Linked DNA regions of Homo sapiens: region 2 is linked to region 1. Evidence: fine-mapped expression QTL. A gene starts in region 1. The other region holds a variant in brackets. All regions are shown on one strand. Distances are from middle to middle.

Region 1 (15,287 bases):
CCTACCACCAACTAAGTACTGTATTCCCATCTAATTTGAAAAGCTAAGGAGAAATTAAACACATTAAAGGTTGAACACTACACAAAGGTTCCCAACCAGCATACCAAAATGCCTCTCTCTTGGTCGTTGGTGGCTGAGACCCTGGAGATGACTGCTTCTAGACATTTCTGCTCATTTACAGATAGGATAGTTTTCAGTGTATGCTTTCACATGAAAAAAAGTTAAGAGAATCAAAGTTCAGGCTAAACTGTAATCTCCTGAGGAAGGAATCAAACTAGCTTATTGTATTCCCAGCAACTATTTACAGTGTCTGGCACATATTGAGTGATAAACTATCATCTGCTAATGAAACAATGATGAATAAATGTATAATACCTGAACATTTACAGTGGGCAAGATCTGTGGACCAATCCCTGGAAGAATAGAAAACTTCAGTTGTTTTGCTGGTTCGTTTTGAGACACGGTCTTGCTCTGTCGCCCAGGCTAGAGTGCAGTGGCGCGATCACAGCTCACTGCAGCCCCAACCTCCTGGGCTCAATCGATCCTCTCACCTCTCACCTCAGTCTCCCAAAGTGCTGGGATTATAGCCATGAGCCACTGCACCCTGCCAGAACATCAGTTGTTGTGCAATTACGCAGTGTATAAAGTGCCCACTCTGTGCCAAGCATCTACATATATCGTGTCATTTAATTTGGCTGAGGAAAGAGAAGATGAACTCATGAAAATTCTGCTCTAGTTTGTCATTCACTGTTGCAAACTTCGCTCAGGAAAGCAGGATAGCAAAAAGAATAACAGATGTCCTTTTGGTGAAGATGTCTTGGCATGGGTCCTCAATGCTTTCCTACTTTATATGGCCCACCAGGAAAAAAAAAATGTGCCTTGAAGCACTCTCTGTGAAGAAAAATAATGATAATATCTAACACTCCTTGGGTGTGTACGAGGAGCCAGGCACCACTCCAGCTGCTTCACACATATTAACTCATTTAATCTTCATGTATACATACATAGTTAACTACAACATACGTTAGAGATATAGACAAAATACTACCGAATTTCAGAGGACTAAGAGCTTATTTGCAATTGGAGTGATGGAGGCAATGTCTCAACATATTAGATGGATACAGTTGGAGTGGATGGGAAGGGGTGCTCTATTCCCTCAACTCCTTGCATACATGTAGGCTGTTCAAAAATTATTGTTAAATACTACCTATGTATTTCCTGTGTTCAGGCTCTGCGTTGTCTCATTTGGCCCTGATTTTTATTCCTCTGCTAGAGATGGAAACTGAGACCCAAGGAGATTAGCGTGCAAGGTTCTGCTACAGAACTAGGATCCTCTAGATGATATTTTTAACTACTTCACGCATTGTCTCCTGAATGATTAGCTAACATTTCTTTGGTGCTCATTATACAGCAATGAGTGTTTTGAGGCTAAATATGACAGATTATTTTTCTTTCATTTACTGATAATGTTTATGATATATTAAAATGCAGTGAATACCAACAAGGTTCTCTTTGTTTCAGAAAAGACAAATAAAGGCATTCCTCTTAGGAGAGAGGAGTTGAGTCTTCCGTTATCTTTAATCCACGAGGAGCAGAGAATTATGATTTGGAAACTTAATTCCTGTGATATGATACCCTTCAATGCCTTCAGGTGACAGATCCTAAAAGCATTTACCTTTGAACAACAAATTAAACTGGGGACTATGTCATGAATAATAATAATTGTTTGTTATACAAAGATATGCATCAAATGTCTTTGCACATATACATAAGAAAAACATTAAGTGTTAATATTTAAGCATACAGACTTTGCTGTAGAATGTGTCAGTGTATTTTAAAGCTAAAAGGAATGAGTCACCTAAGTCCATTACTATTTAGATACGACCCACACTGCCTCCCTCCCTGTGAGCTCTCACTGCTATGTTCAGTCCTATTTGTTCAATGTGCTTTGGAGGCTCAAGGGCCATATCATTAACGTAGGGTCTATTAGACTTGTGGCTCTTAGAGATTATTGTTCTTTCTTTCTTGAATATGTGTTTGGATATTTTCAGGGTTGCTATCTGGATTTTTAGGGGGACTAGGAAAAGGCTAGTCCTCCCACTAGGGAACTTGTGACTAATTTGTCAGCCTTCTCCAGGAGAGTTGAAAATAAATCACACACACACAGAGAGGGGGAGAGTAAGGAAAGAAAGAGAGAGAGAGAGAGAGAGAGAGAGAGAGAATGAAAGAATTGAGGGCAATGTGATTTTCTTGCCAGAGGGAATAAGTCAAATATCATTATTATGTATCCTAAAATTCATGTAAAAAAATTACTATTGTCAATGTACTTCTCCATCATTGGGTGGTCATCTTAACGTCTTCATATTTAGATATTTGACAGTTATAGTAAGTAGAGAGTTGCTAGAGAACTTCTTGTTTCCTTACTCAACATTTCCCCCTTCCCCTATTTCCAGATGAACGACCTGGGCACAGAGATGGGGACTGAATCTGACTATTTTTTTCTCTGAAACAAAAAGATTTTCATATTATAAGTAAGATCAACTTACTAGAATCCAGTTGGCAGAAGGGTAAGATGACATATGAACTCTTGTTCTTTCCTCTCTCAACTGACCTTTCTAAAAAGTATTAACAGAAGGGAAAGGATATTTTCAGAAGTGGGCAGCAAGTGAGGCCAATGGATGTCCTCTGCCTGGCCCTGGCCCCACCATATTGTCCAGTGTGCACCTCATCCAGCGTGGCTGTCTCCAGGGCAGTTTCAAGAGCAGAGGGCTTTGTGGTTTTGGTGTGAAGACTTTTCCTGCTAACTGAGGATGGCCCAAGGGGAAACTCCTTTGGCACAACGTTCTTGAATAGAATTAATGAATCCACCTCTGAATCTATAAGGCAGCTTTGGCCCTGGTTCAAATGAAGATGCTAACAAATTTAATGCCCTTTTCTAACAGCAGAGTACCAGGTATCTTAAACTTAAGGAAGCCCTCAAAACATGACTGTAGGCTTATACGGAATAGAATTAAGGTCTCTTCCCTGAGACTTCTTTCTCCACACAGTTTCCCAGTCTTCCCAGCCTTCTTTAGCTTTCTAAGTATCATCAAAACTTATTCACGAGAAAGAACTGAAAGTTCAATTACTCTAAAGCCAAAATAACTGATGATGGCTTAACATGTTTTCTCTGCCATCAAGATTTCAATATGAATAAAGCCTTAGATAAAATACTTGCAGTACCCCTATCAATTAATGACAAACTTTATAAAGAAAGGAAAGGAGGCCACACCTGTAATCCCAGCACTTTGGGAGGCTGAGATAGGAGAATCAATTGAGGTCAGGGGTTCTAGACCAGCCTGGGCAATATAGCAAGACCCCGTTACTATTAATTTTTTTAATGAAAGAAAAAAAAAGGAAAGAAATTTCTTTCGAGGGAGGGGTTGGGAGGTAAAGTGACTTATCAAGCAGAGGGAGCCACTGCTATTGAAACATTCTGGGGTCAGGTCTTTGCAAAAATGAATGAATATTGTTTTCTGTGGTTGTCTAGCACGCTAGCACTTCAACAAAGATTATTAATCTAGGTACCAAACCAACAGATCCAACATATCATCACACTTTAAGAAAGTCTCTAATATTTTAAAGTTAAAGTTAGTTGGGTTTATTAGCAGAAAAAGAATCTTCTCCAGGATGTCATTTAAGTAGAAGGCCAGACCTCAATAGTCCAACACAAATATAAAACATGGTCTTCTAGGGAGCTCTGGAATATAAGGTAATTAAACAAGGAAAATTCATTGTAAAATTATAAATAAGAAGAACTGCTTTATCTCTTAGCAAAGAGGATAAACCCAGGCTGGTTCCAATGGAAGTCAACAGCATAATGTAAAAAGAGCAAGTTACCTACTTACAAATCATGTGATCTCTCCTGGAATGTTTGGGTCTTTTGCCATCTAACACAATAAATAAGCACACCCCCAAAATAAATACAAGCTTATATCTTTACTTGCCTCTAGATTCCATCATGAAGCATACCTCTGTTTTGAATTAATTGAATACATCTGCTTGTGTATAGAATACTCACATATGTATCCTCTTCCAACCAAACTAAAAACAAAAAAGTATGTATCTCTCTACCATCTCACATATTTTTAATAATTCTAGATTATTTGTTTCAACCTTACAGTTCTACACTTTCATATTTTAATGCCATCAATGTAAAACATATGACTTGATTTTGGAATTTTTAAAATAATATTTTATTTCTAGGTCATAGAGATATTTTAACACTGAATTAAGTTTTGCAGAGCTGAAATCTTGAGAATGTTTTGGGTTGGATTGTTCAGTGCCGAATACGTGTTAGCTTGAATACTTGATGTAACCTTGCCTTCCTCTCTGATTATTTCTCAGAACAATAGACCATTATAAGTGTTGTTTTGGAGCAGTTTAAAGTTACAAAACAGAATTGAGCTAATCAGATTTTGACATTGGCTTTTGAACATTACTATGCTTTACCATATTTAAAAATAATTTTTGAACACACACACACACACCTATATGTAATCTATAGCTATATTCCCCAGAGAGTGAGATCATTTTTTGAAAATCTATTACAGAAGTTGGTCATATGATGCTACAGAACACAGTGATAATTATTTAGTAAAAGTAAGTCCCTGTTTGCAAATGAATAATCATCCCCTTCCCAAATACATTTCTTTCTTTGTTTCTTTCTTTTTTTTTTTTGAGATAGAGTCTTGCTCTGTCACCCAGGCTGGAGTGCAATGGCATGATCTCAGCTCACTGCAACCTCCACCTCCCAGGTTCAAGCGATTCTCCTGTTCAGCCTCCCAAGTAGCTGGAATTACAGGTACCCAACACCATGCCTGGCTAATTTTTTATATTTTTAGTAGAGATGGGGTTTCACCATGTTGGCCAGGCTGGTCTTGAACTCCTAACCTCAGGTGATCCACCCACCTTGACTTCCCATAGTGCTGGGATTACAGACATGAGCCTCTGTGCCCGGCCCCAAATACATTTCTTTAAGTTGAAATTTTCCCTCCTGAGTTTTCTTAAATTACGACCCTTTCATATTATTTGTTCACTTTGTAAAGTATTTTAAATTTCTCTTTCTTGGTCAACTCTCCAGAAATGACTGACTTCCAAATCCACCACCTACCCCCTGGGAATCAACTCTATTTTTCACATTTCCAGTTTAGCATCTCTTTCTTCAATCACACATTCATTTGCACTCACCTAAAGGTTTGGTCAGCAGCATAGACTTATACTCTCTCTCTCTCTCTTTCTCTCATCTATGAGTCATTACAATTTCAGTAGAATTACAATAACGAGTTCAGAACCTGTCGCCCACACCTCACAGTAAGTAAAAGGAACCAGAAGACAGCTTTCTCCTCTTATAAATGTCAAGTGTTCAGCATGTCTCCAGTGGGTGCTGAATAGAAAAGTAACCTTAAAGAAGTCAGTCCTTGGGTTGGAGCAAAGCTTTCAGAATTCAGAGTCCATAGTTGACTTTCCTACAAGGGCATATGATTGGTAGTTTCAGCTTCCTTTTTCATGAGGCTTAACTGTCTGCAGCACCGGCTTGGTGTCTGATCTGTTCTGATCGGGTGGGAGAGGGAGACCCCACAAAACAAACAGCAGAGGATTTTCAGGTTTGTTTCAAGGGCAGCCAGCCGAGCTGTGTATAGGGAGTGGGGGGACAGGGGTGGTGTTGATGGTCTTCCTTCCGAGGCTTATCAAATGTAAATGCTCTTTTCTTAACAAGCTGACCCACTGTACACCACACCATACTAATGAGCAATTCTGCTTGGTCAACAAAGGGTGCAAGAGGTTGTGGAAAACCCACAGTAGGGCTTGCATTTGGCTATCACTATGCCCTGCATGAAGATCTCAAAGTACTGTGCCTAAAAGTCATTACTGAGGTTTGGTAGGAAGAATATTAAACCAGAATAACTTGAGATACTAGCCAAAGTTTATTTTTGTTGTTGGTATTATTTTGTTACATTCAGACAGAGAGAAATGCATTTAGGCAGACTGGCATGATCTGCGCTGGATATTTGACCAGGCAATCAGAAGCAAGGAAAGGAAGAAAGCCAGGCAAGAGGGAAGGGGTGACATCAAACGTGCCCTCTGTATTTCGCTCCAGAAAACAGCTCACAATTATGACTACCTGCCTTGTTTTGCAGCTCAGCATAAAAGTGGTGTTGCACCAAACCCTACTGGAGCAGCCTTCATGATTAGAAAGTACTCCACACCTTGGAGAGCTGAGGAGACATGAGAATAATTTTAAATGCAAATTAAATTGAGGGGGTAGCAGAGAAGAACACATAAAAGACAGTAAAACAAAACCTTTCAATTTTCTTAAATTAGCAGTCTAATGTGTTCTAAAGAGCAGCTCCACTCAGATCTCTTCTTAAGGGTTGCATTTCATCACAGTATAAATGGGCAAATCCATCACTTCCCTCTGCTCAGTGCTCTTGAAGCGAGATTGAAGGGAAAATTAGAAGCTGTTCATTTGTGCTTGCGGGCTCAGAAGCGTCGCACTGCTTTGTTTTGTACTCTACCGTGTCCTGTTGAAAGGGGTCAACAAGTGCCGGTGAGTATCCGCTAACTTCCAGACTCTTCCTTTCAAATATCTTTTTGGCTAATTTTCCTTTGCCGGGGATGGGGGTTGTGGGGGGAGTGGGGATCTCCCACAAAATCTATGCTATAATATGTCTTTCAGAATCTGGGAAATTTCAGACAGCTTTTTAAGCTTCTTCCAGTGACTGATTTGCAGAAGGGAAGAGTTATTTTCAGCCTAGATGCCGGTGGCTGTTCTGTGTATTAATTATAACAGGGGAATGTCTAACGTATGTTAAGCTAAAATGGCCTTTCCCTAAACTCCCCCATTCCCTGCCACTCTTAGGCCAGCATTAGGGTAATAACTGGTGCCCCCACAAAAATTTCTAGACAACTTTTCTATATATTAAATTTTTAATCATTTCATATTCTATTCTTTTGTAGCTGCAAATCAAACTAAGATTTGGGATTATGAAAATAAACAATGAAGACATAAATCTGTTTTGTTTTTTTTTTAATGACTATGGCACTTCTCTGCCTAAGAGATAGGGGGCTGGGGAATAGCCCTGCATGATGTATGCATGTGGATTTGATGATTTTCTGCCAAAGTTTTACACGGGAAACTGGTAATTTTCTCCCTTCGCAGGGGAGGGTGCAGAGGCTGAGGCTGGCGTCACCTTCCGTTGCTAAGGTAACGTGCTCTGGCCATTTTATCTGATAAAGGAAGTCCAGTGGACTGTATGCATTATTCATCACTGTTCTAATCAAACAATCAAAATCGTTTACTTTCACCGGGAATATTTAGCAAGATCAAAGACACTCTGGCTGGAACGGCTCTTGTTTTACCGCTGACAGATAGCCTTTGATTTTTATTTTTTGCAGTAAGTATATTTGCTATTGGGGTACCTTTGGGTATTTTTAAAAGTTTTGTCTTACCGGACTTGGTTTCTTAAATTAAAATACATACTGTTAGAAAGAGAAACCAATTGGATTAGACTTCCAAGCTTGGTTTTAATGACTTTGTCTTGTTAATTCTTTCCAAAAAAATATTCTGCAGAAATAGAGATAATTCATTTGTGTGAGTATCAGGGAAAGGCTACATAGGCTTGAAAAAAGAACCCAACAGGCTGAATGTTTTCTGGGGAAGTATATTAGCTTTGTGACAGGCTAGTGTATGATAATATAGGGATCACTGTAATGCTGCAATCATTCTTGCTGCTCTACAAACCACAATTGTTTCTCAAAAATCAGCCCCTGCCAGGCACAGGCAGGTGACGATCCTCTAGCACTTTATAAAATGTGCTGAAGGGAATCGCCGGAAAGGAAGGAATTCAAAGCATTTGTACAGCAAATATGTCAGTGTGTGTCATAAACGCACGGCATCTATGAGTGGAGGCTCGGATTCCCAGGCAATTTTCCCTGCTCCAGGGGAATCCGAAAGTCCCAGGATGAGCTGAGGATCAACACTCACAACGGCTGACACTTAATGACGCTATTTATCAAATAGACCTTTTGAAAACTGATAGCATGTGAATTTAACAGTATATGTTCCAGAGAATATAAAGCAAGGAAAGGCTGGTATGTTATCTCTCTTTAGATCAGATCATCTGTTTTTCCTGAGTAGAATATATTACTTTTAATGAATGTTGGCTAAATGCGGCATTTTCTCACACGGTAGGAAAGCTATGCTGGGGGGTGGCTTTAGAATTGCAAATGTCAATCAAGTAGTAGAATATTATAATGGGATATTCTTATTCAAACATTTTAAAGTACATCTATATATACACTTTATACTTGACGTCTAAAATATTGTGGATTTTTTTTTCCTCTTTATAGGTGTTCCAGTGTTTTCTCTCAAAACTCTGTGTTTGGAACATCAAGGATGGATTATCCCAAAATGGATTATTTTCTGGATGTAGAGTCTGCTCACAGACTCTTGGATGTTGAGTCAGCTCAAAGATTCTTCTACAGTCAAGGAGCTCAAGGTAATAAAATAAGAAAAAGAAATTCCTCTTATTTGCACGTCGGTTTTATATGAACAGCCATGTAGGCTGTAGCTGTTAAAGCCTTGCTCTGAAAGTTTAATAACCGGTATTTCTAAGTTGATAACCTCTACCAAACTGCTGCTGGAATTGAGGCAGGTATATAATAGAATAAATAAATCCACACTTCTTGGATGTGGTTAAAAAAATGCCCAACTTTTGGTGTAAGTGCCCCTCAGAAAGCTATGTTAGAAATGATTTCCTACCACCTGTGTCCAACACTTATGTCCAAAAAGAATCAAGAATGCTCTTCCCCTTGGAGAATTTCCAGTTTGCAGCCACAGCTCTTGAAATCTTAGGGCATCATGACCCAGTGGACTGGAATCCAGCAGGATTAGGGGCTCTTGAGAGAAGCGCTGAGCTTCTCTATAGCTGCCTTCTCTATTTTAGCTGAATTCAGTTACCGCCTCAGATAATTACTAGTGTACATTCAGGGAGCAAGCCTCTTGGGAAGTGTGGTTGATGTGTCCGTTTTTATTACATGTTTCAAGATGGTCAGTTAGGTTCCAGTTTTCTTGCCCTTCTGTTGGGGTATTTAGAATGTTTTTCCACCACATTAAAGAAGAAGCTGGAGTGTTATATGGGATCTCGTGACTAGGAGGAGATTTTTTTTTTCACATATTTTCTGTTTTCCATGAAATGTTTAAGGTGTTCAGTCAAAGCAACCTGATGATGGGCATGTCCCAAATGATACAGGTGATGCATTGAGAAGGAGGACAATGTCCCTATTTTAAAATAGAAAAGCAGTTGAATTCTTAGAAGTCACAAAGCAGAGCTGAGAAGATAATGCAGTCAGTTTTTATAATTCTGGCATCTTTCACTTTAGATGGTGATGGGAACTTTACACACGCCACTGATAATATCCTGTCTGGGCTTTCCCAAGTGGTCCTCTGAATTGCTTTTACCTCCCTCTCAAGCCAACTTATCGTGGTAACCTCAGGGGGCTTGCAAGCCATCTCCTTCTCTGCTTTCATTTCTCAGAGCATGACCCAGTCTTCTTAAAGTCAAGAGGGGTTGGAAATGGTCTGGTTGATTTGCTGAGGTCTGTGTGCTCAACAGCAGAGCTGAAATTAGCAGAAGTGATGTAATAGCAAACTCTCCTCAAACTTCTGGGTGTATGGAGTCAACATGGCTGTTCCCAGCCACTTAAAGACACATAAAAATGTGAGTGAAGAAGGAAAAGAGTGAGAGACTGGCCAGGACCTCCAACCTCTTCTGGGTCTGCAAGTAAGAAAATGCTGGAAGTAGAGGTAGAATGGAGGTTGGAAGGGGGTGGGGGATGAAGTTAGGCTCAATTCCTTCTCCAGTCTCAAGGTCACACATTGCTATGTGATTGGTCCATTCGACTGGAATGAGACAATAATGCTCCGTAGCGGGGTCATCCCGCTGAACCGCATAGCTGTTGGCAAAACAGAAAGGGGGGCAGCAGTTAATTATAGAGAATAAAGATGCCCATTTTGTCTTGCTGTGGGGATGCTTTAAGCCTTTAAGAAGACCGTGGGCTCCAAGATCTTACGGAAGGAAAGCAGGCAGTGTGTGGGAGGCTCGGGAGGACTCAAGGCAGCCTTCTGGTTTTCAGCAGATGGAGCTGGGGGTGGAGTGGTCAGAATTGTCACCATCAGTGACTGTGGTTTAGACACCGGAGCTGGAAGGACTAGAAAATGCATGGGAGGTGGCAGCATAAGCTACTGTTGCTCCCTGGAGTCATGTTCGTATTAGAGTAATCAGATGATGTTTCAATCAAGGATTCCTGGATTTGCAGGAGGGGCGGGGGTTCCCGCACACATTGTCTAGGTCAGTGTTTCAAAACCCCCAGTCTTCCTGAACCAGATATCCTGGTGTAAGGCCTGTGAATTTGCATTTTAAGCAAGAGCTCCAGGGATGGCTACCTAGCCAGTTCATCAGTCTAGGGACAGTATTTACGAACCAGTCCACCTAATCCCGTTTTCTCCTCTTCCACCTCACAACAGGAACATTGTACTCAACACTAGAGGCAGGATGACATAGTGGTTGCAGGCTCCTCTGCAAAATGCAAACAGTAATAGTTCCTAATTCACAGGTTGTTAAGAGCATTAATGAGGTAAGATTTTAAAGGGCTTAAAACAGTGTCTGCCACATAAGAAATGCTACACACGAGCAAATCAATAAAGTAAAAATCCCAGCAAAAGCCCATCCTCTTCTGTTTAAAACTTCATAATGGGCCTGGCACAGTGGCTCACGCCTGTAATCCCAACACTTTGGGAAGCCGAGGCGGGTGGATCACTGGAGGTCAGGAGTTCGAGACCAGCCTGACCAACATGGTGAAACCCTGTCTCTACTAAAAATACAAAAATTAGCCAGGCGCAGTGGCATGCCTGTAATCCCAGCTACTCGGGAGGCTAAGGTAGGAGAATCGCTTGAACCTGGGAGGCGGAGGTTGCAGTGAGTGGGGGTGGCACCACTGCACTCTAGCCTGGGTGACAGAGTGAGATTCTGTCAAAAAAAAAAACTTCACAATGAAGCCACTGCCTTGCAAACAAGAAATGTGGCCTGATAAAAGTTAAAAAGTTAAACCTATTTCTAGCAACAACCACAAAAAATAGAAATTTTAAATACATTTAAAAATGCAGTGATTCATTTCTTGTCCTGTCAAAACCCAACTCAGGGCATAACTGAAAAATAGCTCATCTTGCTGCTCTCCATCTGTCTTGTCCTTCATTTCACTTTAAAGATGAGAGTCCCTCTCCCTCCAACACCTTCCCTAGATCCCCAGCACACAGGACCTATCACCTTGGGAGGCTCCTTTCTCAAGTTCTGCTTTTACCATTACTTGGGGCTTGGCACTGCATTGCATGGGTTCCTCCACTGTAGCTTCCCTCCCCTTTGCACAGATTCCACAGTCTGTCCTGGACAACCAGCACCCCTTAGGCCTAATAAAGGAACAGTGAATGGGTGAAGGCCTGAGTACCATGGCCGGCACCCTTCCCATCCAAACCAGATGCACACATTGGCCGGATTCAAGCTTGTATCGAACCAACGGCAAGGCTCCGAGGACCAGTGAAGGAGGGCAAGCTGGCGGCCAGCTCTTGAGAAACACATTTGAGACAATTAGGGTCTCATGCTATTGCTGAATCACTCCACCACATGGCAGTTCTCTATTTGGCCAGTCCAGCCAGTGCAGAGGATATTAGTAAGGCCAAGTAGCCCCAATTTGATTACTTCTTCTAAAAAGAAGGCCAACTTGAAAGTACAGTATGGGGTTAAGTATATAAAACTTGGGTGACCTAAGGCTTGGTTGGCTAAACTGTTGTGTGATTATTGCATTTTTGAGTAGTCTATTCTCACTGTCATGCAGATATTTCTATAGACTGATCAAGTGTTCTTACAGATGTAAATGTTTTTAAAGGGAAAAGCAAGAAAATCTGAGTTCCCCTCTCTCATTTCCCACATGACAGCCTCATATCAATTTATTTACAAACTCATAAAGTTCCAGGAAGATAACACCTTCTGTATTAGTCATGTGCAAAATCTTTATCCAAAGCAACAATGCCAGAATTATGTTTTTGATCCACACAGAGTTGTTTCTTTTAGATTTTTCTTGGAAAGTGGCAATAGCCTTCCCTTGAATAGAGGACGTTTTAGCTAGTTAAAGCAAGAGGAATCCAGGAGGGTGAGAAGAAAAAGAAGGAAAAAGGCAATTTATCATGAGAAAAATTCTTTTGGAATTCCCTGAGATTTTCAAAGGTGCCTGATCTATTCTTCTGAATAAAGAACCTGTTATCTTCTCCCACCTCCATTTTCCCCTGGTTGGACCTCAAGGTGGGGGAGATCAGCTGCCTCTCTCATGATTCTGCTTTAGAAGGTATGATGTGTTGCAGAGAGCAGAAAATGTACAGGGTCCTCCTGTTTGCCTCCTGTCAGTGAAGGAGGCTCTCTTGATTAACTAGTGAGTCGTTTGCCAATGGTAAATCCTAACACGAAGGGAGTTCTGCGGAAGTCCCCTTTAACTGAAAAGGAGAACTCCAGAGGTTAGAGATACACATGGCTTCAAATATCATGTCTTGGCATCACATAATTTGAGCTCATCTGTGTTTCAGGTTTCTGACAATGCTACCCCACACACTCAACTTCAGACTCTGTAATTTTGTAGTGAACAATTGAACTTGAAGAGAAGACATATTATAAAATCACAAAATTAACATCATGAGATTTTTAGGTTAAAATGGACATTATAGGCCAGGGACTGTCTTAGGTCTCTTCCTAAGCCAAGAGAAACAGACCCTGGGAGGGCCAGCCCCAGGCTCCAGTGCCATTTTTTCAACTAGCCCATGGGTTTTTATGATGAATACTGGAGCTTGAGAACCACCATTATGGATCGTCAGTCACTTGCTACCCAGAGTGTGATCCCAGACTGACAGCACCAGCTTCATTCATTCGTCTGGGGCTTGTTAGGAATGTAGCATCTCAGGCCCCACCCTAGACCTAGAGAATCAGAATCTGCATTTTAACAAAATCTCCAGGTAATTTATATTAAAGTTTGAGAAGCAACAGTTGAATTCAGTGCACATTACAAACACCACCTGGAATCCTTGTTTTGGCCTTTTCTTTTTTTTTTTTTTTTTGAGAGAGAGAGAGGGGTCTGGCTCTGTCATCTCAGGCTAAAGTACAGTGACAGGATCATAGCTCACTGCAGCCTCAAACGCCTGGGCTCAAGCAATCCTCCAGCCTCATTCTCCCAAGTACCTGTAGGCACATGCCACCATGCCTGGCTAATTTCTTAAGTTTTACAGACAGAATCTTGCTATGTTTCCCAGGCTGGTCTTAAACTCCTGGCCTCAAGCAGTCCTCCCACCTCAGCCTCCCAAAATGCTGGGATTATAGGCCACACCTGGGAGATTTCACAACCTAAATGCTAGAGTCCACTATGGACCAATTAAATCAGAATCTCTGGGGATAAGCCCCACACACGGTAATCTTTTAAACTGCCCCCACGAGATTCAAATGTGGAGCCAGGGCTGACAACTACTGACCTTTGTTTCATAGTAAAAGGTTTCAGCATCATGCAGCTATTCTTCCCCGAATAACTTTCTCTATCTAGGTCTTCCACTTTAAATGAATTTGAACCATGGGGAAGATGCAAATGGACTTTTAAAAAGCACTATGGGCTGGCGCAGTGGCTCACACCTGTAATCCCAGCACTTTGGGAGGCCAAGGCAGGCAGATCGCCTGAGGTCAGGAGTTCGAGACCAATCTAGCCAACATGGTGAAACCTGTCCCTACTAAAAATACGAAAGTTAGCTGGGTGTGGTGGTGGGCACCTGTAATCCCAGCTACTCAGGAGACTGAGGCAGGAGAATCACTTGGACCCAGGAGGCAGAGGTTGCAGTGAACCGAGATCGCACCATTGCACTCCAGCCTGGGTGACAGAGCGAGACTCCATCTCAAAAAATAAATAAATATATAAAAATAAAAATAAAAATGACTTTGTATCAAGGGCTGCCCCTTGTATATTCATTGTATCTGTTAACCCTCAAAGGAACTTTGGGAAGCGGGAATCCTATGCTCATGTTGCAGACTAGAAAACCGAAGACTGATGAGGTGAAGTATCTTGAAAGGGCTGTACATTTAGACAACAGCAGAGTCAGAGTTTTCATTCAAACATATCCATCTCCAAAGCCCAAGCTATTTTGTTTAAGCTGTCTCATGCTGCTTGCCAGGCAGAGGCAACCTCTCATCTAGTTAGACTGATCAAATCAACCCCGCAGATCAGCAAAGGTAACTTCCCTGACCAAACCACACTTCCAGGGATGGTCAAGCTGTGGCTCAGAGTCATTCTGCTGGGAACTCAAATCACACAGCTTAAAAGAGGACAGCAGAGACAGAACCAGATATCATTTTATCACATCCATACCCTGTCCACTGTGTGAGGTTTCTTTTCTCAAAAACCATCAATATACTCGGACATTCAAATTACCTTCTAAAGGGAAAATACATTAAAAGGCAGCCAAATGACAAAAGTCACTAGGCAATCCTAGTGACTCCTGCTAATGATTTCCCCTCTTTTATCATTTAAAATAACACTCGGCATTAGAACCAGGCTCAGTCGTCACTGTTACTTGTCATAATGCACCTTTTCTGTCATCTACATTGTCTTGTTCAAAAAAGGGAAATGCCAGTTTTGACAACTGATGAATGCCACAGTGAGCAGCTAAGAGTCTCTTTAAGTTGTTTTTGGAAATACAGAGGAATTCATCCAAACCCCGTCTCTCCCCTCACGCCTCCACCCACCTCCACTCTTTGCCCACTCTGTGAAATCGGTCAGAGCAGCTGACTTTTGAGTCTTCAGCTTTGAGTTAAATATACTCTAAACCTGACTCTAAACCTCTAGGACTTCAAACATGGCCCCAAGAGACAAAGACATTTGGTAGCACTCCATTAGTTCAAAATCAGGAACAGTAGTAACAAACACAAAACATGCTCATACTATTTCCTTTGCTGTGCTTACAGGGAGACCCAGCCCCATTGTCACCTCCCCTGTGAAGCTTTGCTTAACTTTCCCAGGCCTTCCTCCCATTGCCTATACTACAGCTGTTCACGCCTACACTACAGCCATTGTCATCATCTATGATTCTGCCTCCACCACCTGCTAGATGCATGAGCTCATATAAATGGCTTTACTTCTTTAAACCTCAGATTCCTCATCAAAATAGA
Region 2 (15,287 bases), 550 kb after region 1:
TGGTGGTTGATTGGCCATCAAGAGTGAAGTTCAGACAGGATGATTCCCAGTTTCATGGCCTGGGCATCTCACTAGGACTCCATACAAGACCACTTGGAGAGGAAGATGTATGGGGGAAGAAGATGAGTTAATTCATTTGGGACCCTTTAAGTCTGATGGCCCATAGGAGTACAAGACAGCAGTTAGAAAGGTGGCCAGGAACTCAAAAATATGACTGGAGGTTTAGATTTTGGAATCATCAGCATATTGATGCTATTGGAAGTCATGAGTGTTGATGAGATCATCCAAGGAGCATGTGTGGCATCTGAACTGGTGGGATCTGGGTTAAATAGTTACTAAATGAGCATCTATTATGCTCTCTATGCTCTCTTAGGAACTGGGGATGTAGTAATAACCAAGGCCAGACAGAAATGCCCCAATCCTCATGGAACTCATAGGTTCTCAGGAGGAAGTTTCCAAAGGATGTAGAGGGGATAGAATTCAGTGCTTCTCCCTTTCCCCTGATCCCACCAAGCCCATCTACACTTCTGGATACCTGTTAGAAAACCCCATCTCCTCCTACTTTTGGAGAGAGGATCTTATTTTCTGTCATTCTCTGTGAGGACTTTTGCATTTCCTCTTTCCATCTGTCTGAAAATGCAGTTACCTTTCTCTGGTGCTGAGTTGCAGAAAACCCAAGTTAATTCTGTTTTTCCTTTGTCCTGAAATGCAGATACAGTTTCAGAGATCCAGACTTTAAAATCAAGGCCCTCAAAACAATAAGCAGTTGTAAATGCTAATGAAAGCTGTGACCTTGGTGTTCTGGAAACGGCAGAAAGCCCATTAGCTCTGTGCAGCACAACTAATCTCTGTCAGCCTCAACAAGTCAGACCAACAAAACCTACAAGGGTTTTGTCACTTCTCTAGGGAGATGCTGTAATGTGCAAAGACAATGCTGCCTGCTCTGCATACATTTAAAGCATCTTGCCACTACATTCTCTACCAGTCTTCTTTTTCCAAGGTCAAAACTGAAGTGTCCTTTATTTTGGGCTTTTAGTGTTTTTTTTTTTTTTTTTTTTTTTCAGTCTTTCCATGCAAAAAGAAAACTTCAATTTATTTGATTATTTCTTATGGTCACCAGTAGAGACAGCATTGTTCAGACTGAAAAAAAAAAAAAGGCAAGATCCATTCTTAAATTTTTAAAGAAAATAGAAGGCTCACATACAGCACTTGATAGCATGTGGCATTTAAACAGGAACCCAGAGATTTTTTCAGTTCACTGAATCATTTAGCCATAGTCCATGGTAAAGAAAAAACCATTTGAGGCATGGAAACCATTTTGCTGCTCAGACATATTTTATAAACCAGGGTCACATATATAGTAGCAAAGCTACTTAAGATCCCTTGAAAGTACATTAAACATTTAATTTTGGATGATTCATTTTATGTAAAAATTTATCTCCAAAAATCATTGCCTTTGACACCTAGCAAAGTGATCACGTTTAGATATACAGTCAGGAATTTTGTTTAATTTAATGTTAGTTTTAATCAGATACAACTAGTTAAATCTACTGGCAAGGTGGGAGCAAAGGAGATACAGTATATTCAGGAGGCATCTTGACTTTGATTCTTGGAGTTAGCAGCTCCTTGGGATGATTCATACAGGTGACCACGTCGTCGTGCTCTGCTGCTCAGCTTTCTATGTTAACCAGTACTTAAGAGATGCACCAGGTACATCGATCATAAAATGAGCCAAGCAGATGGCTGCTTTGCTTGGTGAAGATGGCAAGATGCCCTGGGTGTCCCCCGAAAATTTTGATGACTAGAATTCCAAAGCTGGAGCTTTATGCTTTGGGTTTGTGAATTTGTCTCTGATCAAAGACAAATCTCCCAGTGAATGGTAAAATTTTAAACTAAAATAAGTCATCTTCAGTGTATCTCAACTTGAAAGAATAAGCAAAAGCTATCAATTGGGAACTCTTCTATAATTCCAATACGGAACATTGCAAATCTACATGCAACCCACTCTGTCCTGCTTCCCTGCTGTCCCAGTAAAGAGCTGTTCTTCTTCCACTCAAAAATAATGCTACCTCCATCCCTTGGATCCCAAGCCCTCCTACCTTCTCAGGACTCATGCACTACCAATTGGGCCTTTCCCTTTTTATATATTCAGCTTCTCCCTCCACCCCCCACCATCTAATCTGGATTATTTCCATTAAACATGCCCCATTTTCATCCATTAAAAAAATAAAATTTGGGCTGGGTGTGGTGGCTCACACCTGTAATCCCAGCACTTTGGGAGGCTGAGGGTGGGTGGATCACCTGAGGTCAGGAGTTCGAGACCAGCCTGGCCAACATGGTGAAACCCCATCTCTACTAAAAATACAAAAATTAGCTGGTGTGGTGGCATGTGCCTGTAATCCCAGCTACTCGGGAGGCTGAGGCAGGAGAATCACTTGAACCTGGGAGGCAGAGGTTGCAGTGAGCCGAGTTTGCACCACTGCACTCCAGCCTGGGCCACAGAGTGAGCCCTCATCTGAGAAAAAAATACGATACAATTTGGCCAGGTGTGGTAGCTTATAACAGTAATCCCAGCACTTTGGGAGGCCAAGGCAGGAGGACAGCTTGAACCCAGGAGTTTGAGACTGGCCTGGGCAACACAGAAAGACCTCGTCTCTACCAAAAATTAAAAATTAGCTAGGTATGGTGGTGCATGCCTATAGTCCCAGCTGCTCAGGAGGCTGAGGTGAGAGGATTACTTGAGTCCGAGAGGTTGAGGCTGCAGTGAGCCAAGGTGGTGCCACTGCACTCCAGCTTGGGTGACCAGAGTGAGGCCCCATCTCTGAAAAAAAAAAAATAATAAAATAAAATAAATAAAATAAAATTCCACCACAGCCTCCTTCACTTCTACTTCTCTCACCCGCTTCAAAGCCAGGCTTCGTGGCTAAGTCCTCCAGCTTCGGTGCATCCATTTTTCCACCCCTGTCCTCAGCCCTCTCCAATCTGGCTTCTCTTCCTGCCACGCCACTGAAGGGGCTCTAGGTGTTGTCAGTAACAGCCTCCATGGTGCTAAACCCAGTGGGCATTTTTTTCAGGCCTCATCTAACCTTACAGCAGCTCTCAGAACTCTTTGTGGGCCATACCTATCATCTTACTGTTAACGAAAAGATTGACATGCAGGTCAAAGGCACTTATTTGGGAAGCAAAAATGGCAGCTGGGGTACACCGGATCAGGGCAGCCCTGAAGAGTGCCCTATAAGGCAGGCTGCAGGAGAGAATTTTTAAAATAGAGGATTGTCATAAAAAGTTATTTTCGGAAGTAGTTCATTGGCCAGGCAGAAATCCTAAATCACAAAGCCGTTGTGATTGGTTAGTTAATGAGAGTACTCTCAGCTGAGGTGTTGAAGGCCAGCAGATGCTGACTTCAGTTGTTTGACCGAGTCTATTGGAACATCCCCTGGGTTTGACCTTCAGCAGGTGTGAGTGCGATCCTCTTGCAACCTTCGACTCCACTTCAGAAAGCCTTAGCATTAGTTACTATATTTTCTTTCCCATTACGTTGCTTCCATGATATGACATTTTAGTCCTCATCCTACCTCCAAGAACTCCCCTCCCCAGAATCCATGGCAGGGTCATCCTCCTTAGTCCATGCATTAAATACTGGAATTCGGCAAAGTTCCATCCTAAGCCCTCGCCTCTTCCCATTCTCTACTCTCTCCATACTCATGGCTTCAAATATTGTCTATATTGCAGACTAGTCTCAGATTTCTATCACTGGCCTAGTCCTCTCCTCTCCACTGAGCTAAATGTATCCTGCTGCCTACATGACAGCTTCATTCATATGTCTCAGGAGCATTCTGATGTAACAGATCCAAATTCAAATTCATGGTTTTCTTCCACTCTTCCTTCACAAACACGCTGGTTCTCTTGCAGTGTGCCTGCCTCAGTGAACAGCATTCCCATCCATCTAGTTGCATGAGTTAGAAAACCTAAGGAGATATCCTGTACACCTGCTTCTTCCTGTCCATTCACATATGCTACCTGACTTCCTAAGAGCTTGCACATCACTGCCACAGCCTCGCCCAAGCCTCCACCATTTCTTACCAGGTGTGCCAAGCCTCCCAAAGCCTCTGCTCGGGTTTCCTCTTGCCTCCCCCAATCCCTTCTCCATATAATAACCAGCATGATCTCTTTCCACTGTAAGTCTGATCATTTCATTCACTCCTCCCCTCTCACACCCTAAAACTTAAACTCTTCAACGGCTTCACATTGCTCCTAGAAAAAGAAGATCTAAGTCCCGGAAGCATCTGTATTAGGCCATTCCCACACTGCTGTGAAGAAATACCTGAGACTGGGTAGTTTATAACGAAAAGAGGTTTAATTGGCTCACAGTTCTGCAGGCTGCACAGGAAGCATGATGCTGGCATCTGCCTCTGGTGAGGCCTCAGGAAGCTTCCAATCATGGTGGAAAACAGAGGGAAAGCAAGGAGTCTCACATTGGAGGAGCAGGAGCAAGAGGGAAGGGTGCTACACACTTTTAAACAACCAGATCTCGCGAGAATGCACTCAACTCACTAGAACAGCACCAAGTGGTTGGTACTAAACCGTTCATGAAAAACTACCCCCATGATCCAATCATGTCCCACCAGGCTCCACCTCCAACACTGGGGACTACAATTCAACATGTGATTGGCAGGGACACAGATCCAAATCACACCCACGGCATCTGGCCCCTGCCCTCCTTCCCACCAATCTTCTCTCCTTACTCTCTGCCCAGAAGGAGCATCCTTCTTCCATCCCTGAGCTCTGGGCACAGTGTCACTTCCTCCTGGAAGCCTTTCCTGACCTCCTGATTTGGTCAGATCCAGAGATCCCTGCACCAAGTGCCTCACCATGGAAGCCCTTACTCCAGCTACATTTTGCACTCATTTCTGTGACTGTTTGATTAATGGCTACCCCCATCCTCTTCCAGTCTTCTCTGTTCCAGAAGGGCAGGGACTGGTTTTGCTCATCACTGTACTCTGGTACCTAATGTAGAACCTGACACAGCACTGGCACTAATAAGTAACTTGCTAAATGAATGAATGGGTTTACATTTGAATGTAACTGAGTCTGTGGCACCCATTTCTAAAACAGGTCTTGATAGGAATGAGATAGAGCAAGAGTGATAACATAATTCTAGGAACTCGAGAGGGGAGGACTCCAGGGAATAGAGTCAATGCAGAACCACAGACACTTTATCTTCTTCACAGTTTTGCCTTGTGCCCAGTGAGCCCCACTTCCATGTGGCTGCTGAATGGTTTTTTTCTGACTCACCTCTTGCTGGCCAACTGAGATGCTGCAAGAATGTACAGTGCCTTCTACATGGGCAGTGAAAGTCTAAGTCACGCCCAACTTGCTTGTTGTTTTGAGGATATTTTATTACATGCCAGTCCTTGGAAACTGTTGATCCAGTTTTACCTTGCACATTGTAATCACAGATGTGCACCTCTAGGCTGTGAGCCGCTTAAGAATGTGTCTGGCCCTTCATGTGGCCCGTGGTTCATGTTGGGTAGATTAGCAGATGAAAGACTTAGGAAAACAAAAATTGGAATTCTTATCATTTGATCTCAGCCAGCGTCTCAAACTCAGAGGCCCTCGGGGGTCCAGGAATGATCTGAAAAAAAAAAAAAAAAAAAAAAAAAAAAAAAAAAGCAGGACAGATGTGAGCGTGCTCACCTGTATTACATAAGTGAGGCCTGGGGAGAGGGCTAATTTGATCACACACTCTGTCTAAAGGCATTCAGGCTCAAAAAAAGTATAACCAGCTGGGCTCAGTGGCTCACACCTGTAATCTCAGCACTCTGGGAGGCCGAGGTGGGTGGATCACCTGAGGTCAGGAGTTTGAGACTAGCCTGGCCAACGTGGTGAAACCGCATGTCTACTAAAAATACAAAAATTAGCTGGGCGTGGTGGCACACACCTGTAATCCCAGCTACTCGGGAAGCTGAGGCAGGAGAATCGCTTGAACCTGGGAGGTGGAGGTTGCAGTGAGCTGAGATTGTGCCACTGCACTCCAGCGTGGGTGACAGGGCAAGACTCTGTCTCAAAAAAGAGAAAAAAGTGTAACCTCTGAGCATGCCAAAGAGAACTGATAGAGTCAAATCCAGTGCACCAGGCATCAGTTTGCAACCTCTGACTAGTAAAGTATCATAGTTATGGCAGACAAAATATTGGCCACCCTTCCACAAGATGTCCACATCCTCATCCCCAGATCTATGAATATGTAACGTCCCAGGGCAAAGGAGACTTTGCAACTGGAATTCAGTTAAAAATCTTAAGATAAAGATTAAATGAACTAACATATGTACAGTGCTTGGAACCATACCCTTACATTATAGGCATTAAATCAGCCTTAGCTTATTAAACTAGTATTTATGATTTGCAGAGAAAAGAGCATAGGCCTAGCAGGATCTGATACCTTGTCTGAGGTAAATAGGTTCAGAGCAGAGCCTGGACTAGAACCCAAACCTCCTAGCTCCTGAGCTACTTAGTGCTTTGTCCTTACAATGCCACCATATCATTTTCCTCCCAAATCTCATTTTCAAGGTCAAAACAACTAACTATAGCACAGGCCCTTCTGGCGGGCTCAGCTGCATGTTATAGCTATGATTAGTCTTGATGTTCTCAGTCGCTTTCCAGAGAAATGAAACACAAACAGAGGAACTCATTTGAAATTATGAGTGTTTGACTATAAAGCAGCCTAGTTAATAACAGAATTTTCTCTGATCAGAGTCTAGTCACTCAGTTTTGCCCCCTCCAAATATGACCACCCATAAAAAAAAGGGGAGGCCACCACAGAGCCAGTTGTCATGTTCACTAATGAGATCAATGGGATGGCACCGTCAAAGCTGATGAGGGAACAATGTAGTCTGCAGACACTTCGCATAAGACTCCAAAACACTGGCCTGATCTCCAAATGTAGGCGCCACCCACATTTACAAGGCTTTCTCAAAACATTCTGCCCCCAAAACTTAGCTTGACTTAAAGCCTGGGTATTACCAAACCATTCCATAAAAGTGGCTGCGCATCTCTTATAAAAGCAGCAAGTATTTTTAGGGAAAATAAACTGGCAGGTGAGAAAGAGCTGTTAAGATCTTTCAACGTGGAGTTGGTAAGCTGCATTCCAGACCTCTGACACCGGCTCACTCAGTTGCATAATCATCGCTTTCCTCCTGCAGCGTGAGAATGCTATTTTAGAAAGAATTCAAAGACTACTGCATCCAAATTTAGACCCCCTAATATTGTGAATTTCCAAATACACAGCTGGCCCTTGTCAATGGGGATGAAAAATGTCTTAATGGGATTGCAAAGAGAAAAAACAAACTTTGACTGGGAGCAGTGGCTCATGCCTGTAATCCCAGCACTTTGGGAGGCTGAAGCAGGTGGATCACCTAAGGTCAGGAGTTCAAGACCAGCCTGGCCAACATGGTGAAACCCTGTCTCTACTGAAAATACAAAAAACTAGCACGGGGCATGGTGGCACGCACCTGTAATCCCAGCTACTCAGGAGGCTGAGGCAGGAGAATCGCTTGAACCCGAGAGGCAGAGGTTGCAGTGAGCTGAGATCGCACCACTGCACTCCAGCCTGGGCAAAAAAAGCTAAACTCTGTCTCAAAAAAAGAAAAAAACAAACTTTTTTTCACTCTACTCTCACACTTAACACACTTCTGTGACCCCACACATTTCTGTGTGAGGCAGCTCCCCACACACCAAGCAATTCTCCAGCAGACATGAACTGGACATCCTGTAATTCAATTTGATTCTGACCCTTTCTACTGGGACAGTGTCAGATCACACAGGTTAAGGACTCAGTCCCACAGAACTGCCCCCACTTCAGATGCCAATACCAAGTCATAGGTTGTCACCTATATTATGACCCACTAGCTGTAAACTGGGGTTCTCACAACTCCCTCTTTGTGTTCAAA[T/C]AATTTGCTAAGACAGCTCACAGAACTCAGGGAAACACTTACTTTACCAGTTTCTTACAGAGGTTACAGATGAACAGCCAGATGAAGAGATGGACAGGGCAAGGTATTGGGGGAGAGAGGCAGAGCTTCTGTGCACTCTCTGGGTGCCACCCTCCCAACAGTGCCCCCCAGCCCCATGGTCAGCAACCTGGAAGCTCATCTAATCTTGTGGTTTAAGAGTTTCCATAGAACTTCACCTCCAGCCCCCCACCCTCCTGCTTCCCAGCTGAAAGCTCCAGGCCTCTAACTATGTGTTCTTTCTGGTGGCCAGCCCCATCCTAAGTCACCTAATTAGCACAAACTCTGGTGTAATCCAAAGGGACTCATTCCAAGTAACAAAATACACTCCTGACACCCCAGAAATTCCAGGGGTTTTAGGTGCTCTGTGATAGGAACTGGGTCAAAGATAAATATGTTTTATATTATACCACAGGGATATTTTGAAAAGGAATAATAAATATGAAAATGTTCTTATACTCTTAAAAACACTTTGGAATGCAATTTCCAACAGTTTCAGGGTGCTATAGGCTTTATAAGCAGGTATATGACCAAAAATCCTTTCTCTGACATTGTATTAGGCCATTCTTGCATTACTATAAAGGAATACCTGAGACTGTGTAATTTATAAATAAAAGAGGTTTAATTGGCTCATGGTTCTGCAGGCTATACAGGCAGCATGGCCCTGGCATTTGCTTGACTTCTAGGGAGGCCTCAGGAAACTTCCAATCATGGAGGAAGGTGAAGGAGAAGAAGGCACATCACATGGCAAAAGCAGGAGCAAGAGAGAGAGAGAGAGTGAGCAGGGAGTTGCCACATGCTTTTTTTTTTTCTTTTTTTTTTTTTGAGACAGTCTCACTTTGTCACCCAGGCTGGAGTGCAGTGGCGCAATGTCGGCTCACTGCAACCTCCACCTCCCAGGTTCAAGCGATTCTCCTGCCTCAGCCTCCCAAGTAGCTAGGATTACAGGCATGTGCCACCATGCCCGGCTAATTTTTGTATTTTTAATAGAGACGGGGTTTCGCCACAAAGTTTTAAATGACCAGATCTTGCAAGAACTCACTGTCAAGAAGCTAGGACCAAGCCATGAGGGCTCCCCATCCAAGCACCTTGCACCAGGCCTCCCCCCGAGCAATGGGGATTACCATTCAACATGAGATTTGGGCAGCGACAAATATCCAAACTATATGAGACATTGAAGCCCATTCCCTATATAGGATGTGTGGTGGTGACACGGGAATGTCACAGAAGCAATTGATTCTGGCCCAGCACAATAAACAAAAACACAAATGACAACAAGCTTTGAATTAAAAATATAGTCCTTTCTGGGAGATTGATTCCAGGACTCCCTTGGATACCAAAATCCAAGGAAGCTCAAGTCCCTTGTATAAAATGGCGTAGTATTTGCAAAAAACTATGTGTATCCTCCCATATCCTTTAAATCATCTCTAAATTACTTATATCTAATACAAGATAAATGCTATATCAATAATTTTAGACTATTGTTTTTTGTTTGTTTTTTTTTTTAATATTTTCCGTCAGCAGTTGGTAGAACCGAAGAATGTGGAACTCATGGACACAGAGGACCAACTGTAGTTAGGTTTGGAGACTTCATTGACTTGATATTTTCACTCTAGGATCTCTCTTTAGATTTCAAGATGTGAACATCTTGCCGACTATAGACACCAGTTTCTAATACCCAAGGAGGGACTGCAACTTCCTCAACTAGGAGAGCATCATTTCTACCCCTTAGATCCCAATAGAGGAGTCTGAGAAGCCTAAAATTTCTTCTACAATGATTCAGTTTCTCACACACCTCATCCCAATGGGTGAAGTGGAATGCCGGATAATTGCAGGTTGTTAAATAATTACCAAAAGCTTCAAAGGTACAGATGTCTCTGTTCCTGCTCAGGCTCCTGAGTCCGTGTCAGTCATTCCTGGGACCTAATGCAGGCATTCTCCCCTCAGATGCCATGCCCGTTCCCTGGCTACTTCTGTCACTACGTGCCATCCACTGCCTGTCCCGCCTCCACCCATTGCGTCATTGCAGGCTCATGCCCTGGCTATGATGTTTCATGTACGGTGGCTAAATTTCACGCCTGGCCACAGAAGTATCATTTCTGTGCCTTTGCCACTCATGTCTTCTAAGCCTCCGAAATAAGAGGAGCAGGACCAGAAGAAGAGCAGCCATTGTTCTCTGCAGACAGACACATTCTCTCACATGTCCCCGGGGCCACAGACCTCTTTATGTTCTAACTGGGTCTGCACAGAAGAGGCAGGAGACAGGCTTTAGCCTCAAGGGAGGGAGAGAGAGGCAAGAGGCCACAGTCCCCAAGTTAGGAGGCCACAAGGAAAGAAAAGGACTTCTGTGAAGAAAAGAGTCCCGTCTGAGTTGCAGTCCACTTGCCTGGGGCCACTGGAGGAGATGGGGCTGGGGAGGGGCCGCTGCAGGGAGGAGGGCGGGGGTCAGCGGCTGTGACATGACGCACGTGCCTCTCCTGGGCTTGAAATTGAGGAACTGAGGAGGCGGTGGTGGCGAGAGTCAGTCTTTCAGAGCACAGGATGGAACAAGAACTCCAGCCACTGACTGTCTCATGTATCTGCAAGGGCCGAGGAAATTAATGACCCAAGGAGGCTATGATATGGTCCAAAAACTTTTCCTGGATTTTTTCCGTAGGCGGCTGAGCCAGAGGCCAACTGCAGAGGAACTGGAACAGAGGAACATTTTGAAACGTAAGTGACTAAGCCCATGGCAATCCCTGATGTTTTGTGGCGGCTTTTGTTATTATTTAATGGTAGGCCACAAGGTTTCTACCTTGCGCCTCTGCGGAAAGCATTGAAAACCTTTCTAACGGTTGAAGCTTCATGTGTGCATGTTAGAACACCAAAGACGACCTCCCCAAAGAGAAGGCAAATTTTATTCCACTTTATTCTTTAGAAGCTCACGGGCGGCAGGCAGAACCTTCCTTTTAGTGAGTTGTAAAGTCAGAGAGAAGCTGAAAAATTAGAGTGAGACCACTTATTATTTAATGATTTTTAAGAGCAGGGTCACCTTTAAACCAGAATTGGCTTGAAAATGGAGACTGTGATATGCACGGCTAAAATAAGGGAAATGTCCATTTGAACTGAGACTAGAAAGCATGACTTTGCATTGCAGCTGGCTGCTGTTGATAAAAATCCCTCATCCCTTTGAATGTTAAATTGAAAGACTAAGAAAGCATTTCCAAGTGAAGTGCTTCATGTCTGTCTCTCAGGATTCCCACAGCTGGTCCCGGGCATGCCTGTCTGATGCTCTCATTCGAGGAAAACTGCCTTTCACCATTGCTGCAGACAGAAAAAAATAAATGAGCCCCTTGTTTGGTTTAGGACACAGAGACATTTGAATATGTACAGAGGATCCACTTGGTGCTTTAAAAAAAAAAAGAGAAAACAGGATACAAAATACTAAAAGAGATCAAGCATTTGATGGACAGCAGTATGCGTCAGTTTAGTGGTAGATATTAAATAACTTAAATATCAAACCATTCTATTCATTCATTGCTACCATTCTCGCCAACACTGGCCTCAAGATAGTGAACAAATATTTCTGGCTTAATTCATGACCCTGTTCCCCCTACCCCACAACACACTTCTAATTTCTCTCCAGAAGAGAAAGATATATACTATGCAGAGTTTTCTAGAAATGCTATGTTGTACAGACTGACTCCTTGCCTCCCCCGGCCCCCCCGCCCCGCCCCGCCCCGTGCCCAGTAAATCACATGCAACCGCAGTGTGAGTTTGCCGGGAATTTCCACTGAAACCACACTAAGATATTCTTGACTTTACCTTTCTACCGTGCTCACTGTGGCCTTGTGACTTGGTCGGCATTTCGTAGTCTGCTGAAGGTGGGTGCTGGGTTCCGCTTTGGTGGGGAGACCTGTTGCCTACAGCACCCACCCCCGCCCGACGCCCCCGCATGTCCGTTTATGTCAACTCTGCCTTTATCAATGTCTTGCCTCCCGTCCCCACGCCAGCCGCCACTTCCTCAACTCTCAGTAGAAGTTATTTTCAGGATTAGCCTTCCTCAGTCGTGGGGGAACCCTACGCTTTGCCTAGGTCTCTAGGAATGTGTGTTTACTTTTTTCTGCCCAAGGGGTACCCTTTAAAGTTTCCAAGCTTAATATTCTATATAATGAATTCAGAGCTTTTTCAAAGCATTTCCAAGGTCAGGGAAGCATTTGGCTTGTAGGATGTCTTCCTTTCGGCCCCAATCTGGTACCTGAGCCATTATAAACTTCCCATTGTTGGAGAGAAAGATAAACAGCCAGGTGAACCTGTACAACTTACTCACAGCCCGCTGCTGTACTTGTGGCCTCTGACCTGAGACCTAAACTCAAAGAAGCTAAAAGCCTCCGGGGGATTATTTAGGTTTCAGAAAATAGTGCTTATCACACCAGGAGTACGGTTTCTGGAGAGATCTAAAATCCCCTAGCTCAGCTCTGGGCTCTCTCAAAGATATCAGATCCCCGCTGTGGCTTGTCCAGATCCCTGGGAGACTACAGGTCCTTTGAGCTTGGGTTTTTACCGCCATCAACCAGGGAACTTAGATTCAGGGGACCAAAAAGGAGTTGTGAAAGATTGTTCCCATGGTTCTCTTTTATTCTCTTCCCTAATCCCTCTTGTCCTGGCCACATAGTTGCAAATTAAAGAACTACTTGACCAATTCTAACAGGTTGGTCATTTCATAGTTTTGAAACTTTTCAGAAATCAACTTGTTTTCCCATAGGTTCTTATTTTTCCCTGTATTCTGGAACTATGTTCTCCTAAATATTTTTTTAAATTTAATCTATTGCGATTGTTAAACAAAAAAAATGTCTAGTGGTATAAGAAAACATCCTCCAATAGTTTGTTTTAAAACTGATTTTCTGAGCTTTCAGCCATTTGAGGAACTGCTCGGTGTTGGGTGGTGGGGAACAGGGCACAGAGATGCCATGGCTCAGCCCTGGAGCTTTGAGAGCCTTGGGTTGGTTTCCAGCCCCACCCTGCCTGGTCCTGGGAGCAGCCCCTGTTCTGTCCAGCAGCCAGTGAGGCCCTGTGCACCTCTGAGCACATAATGAACCCTCTGACGGTGGCAGCTGTAATGACGACATCGTAGGCCTTTCCTGGCCTGTCTTCCTAGTTGCCTAATGGGGTTGTCTTGGTACCTTCTGCCTGAAAATTCATGAACCTGGGTTGGTCAATGGCTTTGAACTAAAGGTATCAATTCTGTAGGTGGTAGCTTGTGGCCCCACCCCTCAGAGTGACCTAAGAAACGCACATAGGAGATGAAGGCTCCATGCTGTGTCAGCTGTGTCACAGGATGCCCGCCTTCACGGCTCTGAAGGGACCTGTAGGATCAGAAGTCTGAGGCTAGTAATGAGGAGGAGAGCCGGCCCCACACAAAACATGACCACAGGAAAAAACCTATCTGTGTAACCACTGAGCCAGGTAGGGTGTGACTGGCCACTTAACACCCCTGAGGCTTCAGATCCTCAGTTATAAACCAGGAGTGGTAGACGAGGTGGTCACTAGGTCCCCTCATGGCCCTAGTATTCTGTGCTTCTGTAAATTTTCACCGTGTGCCCTCTAGCTGTCCCTGGTGACCCAACATCCAGACCACCTTTTCTTCCATCCGTTTTCCCACCTGAGACATCGCAAAATGGGAGTTCCCTCCTTCTGGTTCTTGCTGTCTGCCTCCCCATTTAACTCTGCTAGATTAATTCATACTAAGATATTAATGGCTGACTAGTTTAATAGGTTTTATCCCACTGAAATTTGCATTTGTACAAATGTCACTGTCTGGGGGCTCCCTACTTCCGGGTGTTGCTGTCTGCCCCCCAGTTTATCTCTACTAGATTAATTCATACTGAGCTATTAATGGCTGACTAGTTTAATGGGCTTTTATTCAAGAGAAATTTGCATTAAAAAAAAAAAAAACCTCTCCGGGAGGGAGATAGGATCTCTAAATCCAAAGGAAAGCACACTCATGGTGACGGTTTCAGGCACTGTAGGGTAGGCTGGAGCAGGGACCTCTGGTGACCTCAGCCCACAGCAAGATGTGGCTGTTTCTTGTGCTGCCTTTCTACAAAGCCTTATGCCCACAGGCGGTTGGGGGGCCAAATCAGGCCCGTGGGGGTGGCCCTCAAGGGCCTGATTTCTGCTCTGACCTTACACCACTTGTGCTAGTGGGAGGTATAGTCACCTTGAGTGTAAAGGTGACACAGTTATCAGATGGTCCCCACCCCTTTCTAGGCACAGGGGGTTTCCTTCCTTTAAAGACCTGTCCCAAGGCCGGGCGCGGTGGCTCACGCCTATAATCCCAGCACTCTGGGAGGCTGAGGCGGGTGGATCACCTGAGGTCAGGAGTTCGAGACCAGTCTGGCCAATATGGTGAAACCCCATCTCTACTAAAAATACAAAAATTAGCTGGGTGTGGTGGTGGGCACCTGTAATCCCAGCTACTCGGGAGGCTGAGGCAGGAGAATCGCTTGAACTTGGGAGGTGGAGTTTGCAGTGAGCCGAGATCATGCCACTGCACTCCAGCCTGGGCAACAGAGCAAGACTCCATCTCAAAAAAATAAAAAATTAAAAAAATTTAAAAAATAAAATAAAGACCTGTCCCATACTGAGACAATCAGCAACCATACCTGAATTGCATGTGTGCACCAATACAACAAACTAATGAAGTTACCAAAATATAATTCAACAACTGTGATTTTCAAAATGAGCCAACTAGTGTCCCAGGCAGTCGTGATGCACCCTATGCCAAAATCAACGTGTTTCCTTTTACTAACGCCATTTGAAATTTAACGGCTGAGAATCACAGGCCTTCTTTGATACAAGCTGACTTCCATAGTTTTTCCAAGTCCAACAATGCTACGCTGATATCTGTGCTTCCACAGATATCAAGGAATTCTTCCAAGGTTCAGAAGGGAAATGGTCTACCCCAGGTCATCCAGTTAGCTTAAAAGGAGAAATAAGCCCAGATTCTCTGCCCTTCAAGTATCTGCCCCCTACCCCAGACTCTCCCATGTACAGCTATTTAAAAATCTGATGAGTAAATCACCCATATATTAAGGCAAGAGCTTTCAGGCTCTGCAGTCTACTCTTCTGAGCCACTCCTAAAGAGTCTACATGCAGGCAATTGTATCCCACACTCTGGCCTCACCCATGCTCTGTGGACTTCATGGAAGATTCAAACAATCGATGGAATCAGGGCTTGTGAAAGGTGAGCGTTTTGAAATTCCTCCTGCCTTGTCTTGTTCCTGCAGCAGGTTGAGGGCAGTC

What was found.
Region 2: its variant is fine-mapped to the expression of PHACTR1 in whole blood (INTERVAL, PIP 0.94).

The regions. Positions count from the first base shown.
Region 1 is chr6:12,710,308-12,725,594 of GRCh38, forward strand. It overlaps PHACTR1 (phosphatase and actin regulator 1), which reads left to right and starts at 6,460. Exons shown (of 15, transcript NM_030948.6): 1 at 6,460-6,589; 2 at 7,202-7,436; 3 at 8,392-8,540. The coding sequence starts at 8,438. The region is part of intron 1 of LOC107984015 (a long non-coding RNA gene); the gene reads right to left.
Region 2 is chr6:13,262,201-13,277,487 of GRCh38, forward strand. PHACTR1 (phosphatase and actin regulator 1) reads left to right here. Exons shown (of 15, transcript NM_030948.6): 11 at 10,660-10,715. It overlaps TBC1D7-LOC100130357 (TBC1D7-LOC100130357 readthrough), which reads right to left. Exons shown (of 9, transcript NM_001318809.2): 9 at 4,336-5,635. It also overlaps a transcript of LOC100130357 not described here. Among named protein-coding and RNA genes, the nearest start is that of TBC1D7, 59 kb to the right of the region's middle. RefSeq lists enhancers at 10,280-10,379, 11,091-12,290. The variant T/C (reference allele first, on the strand shown) is at 7,947.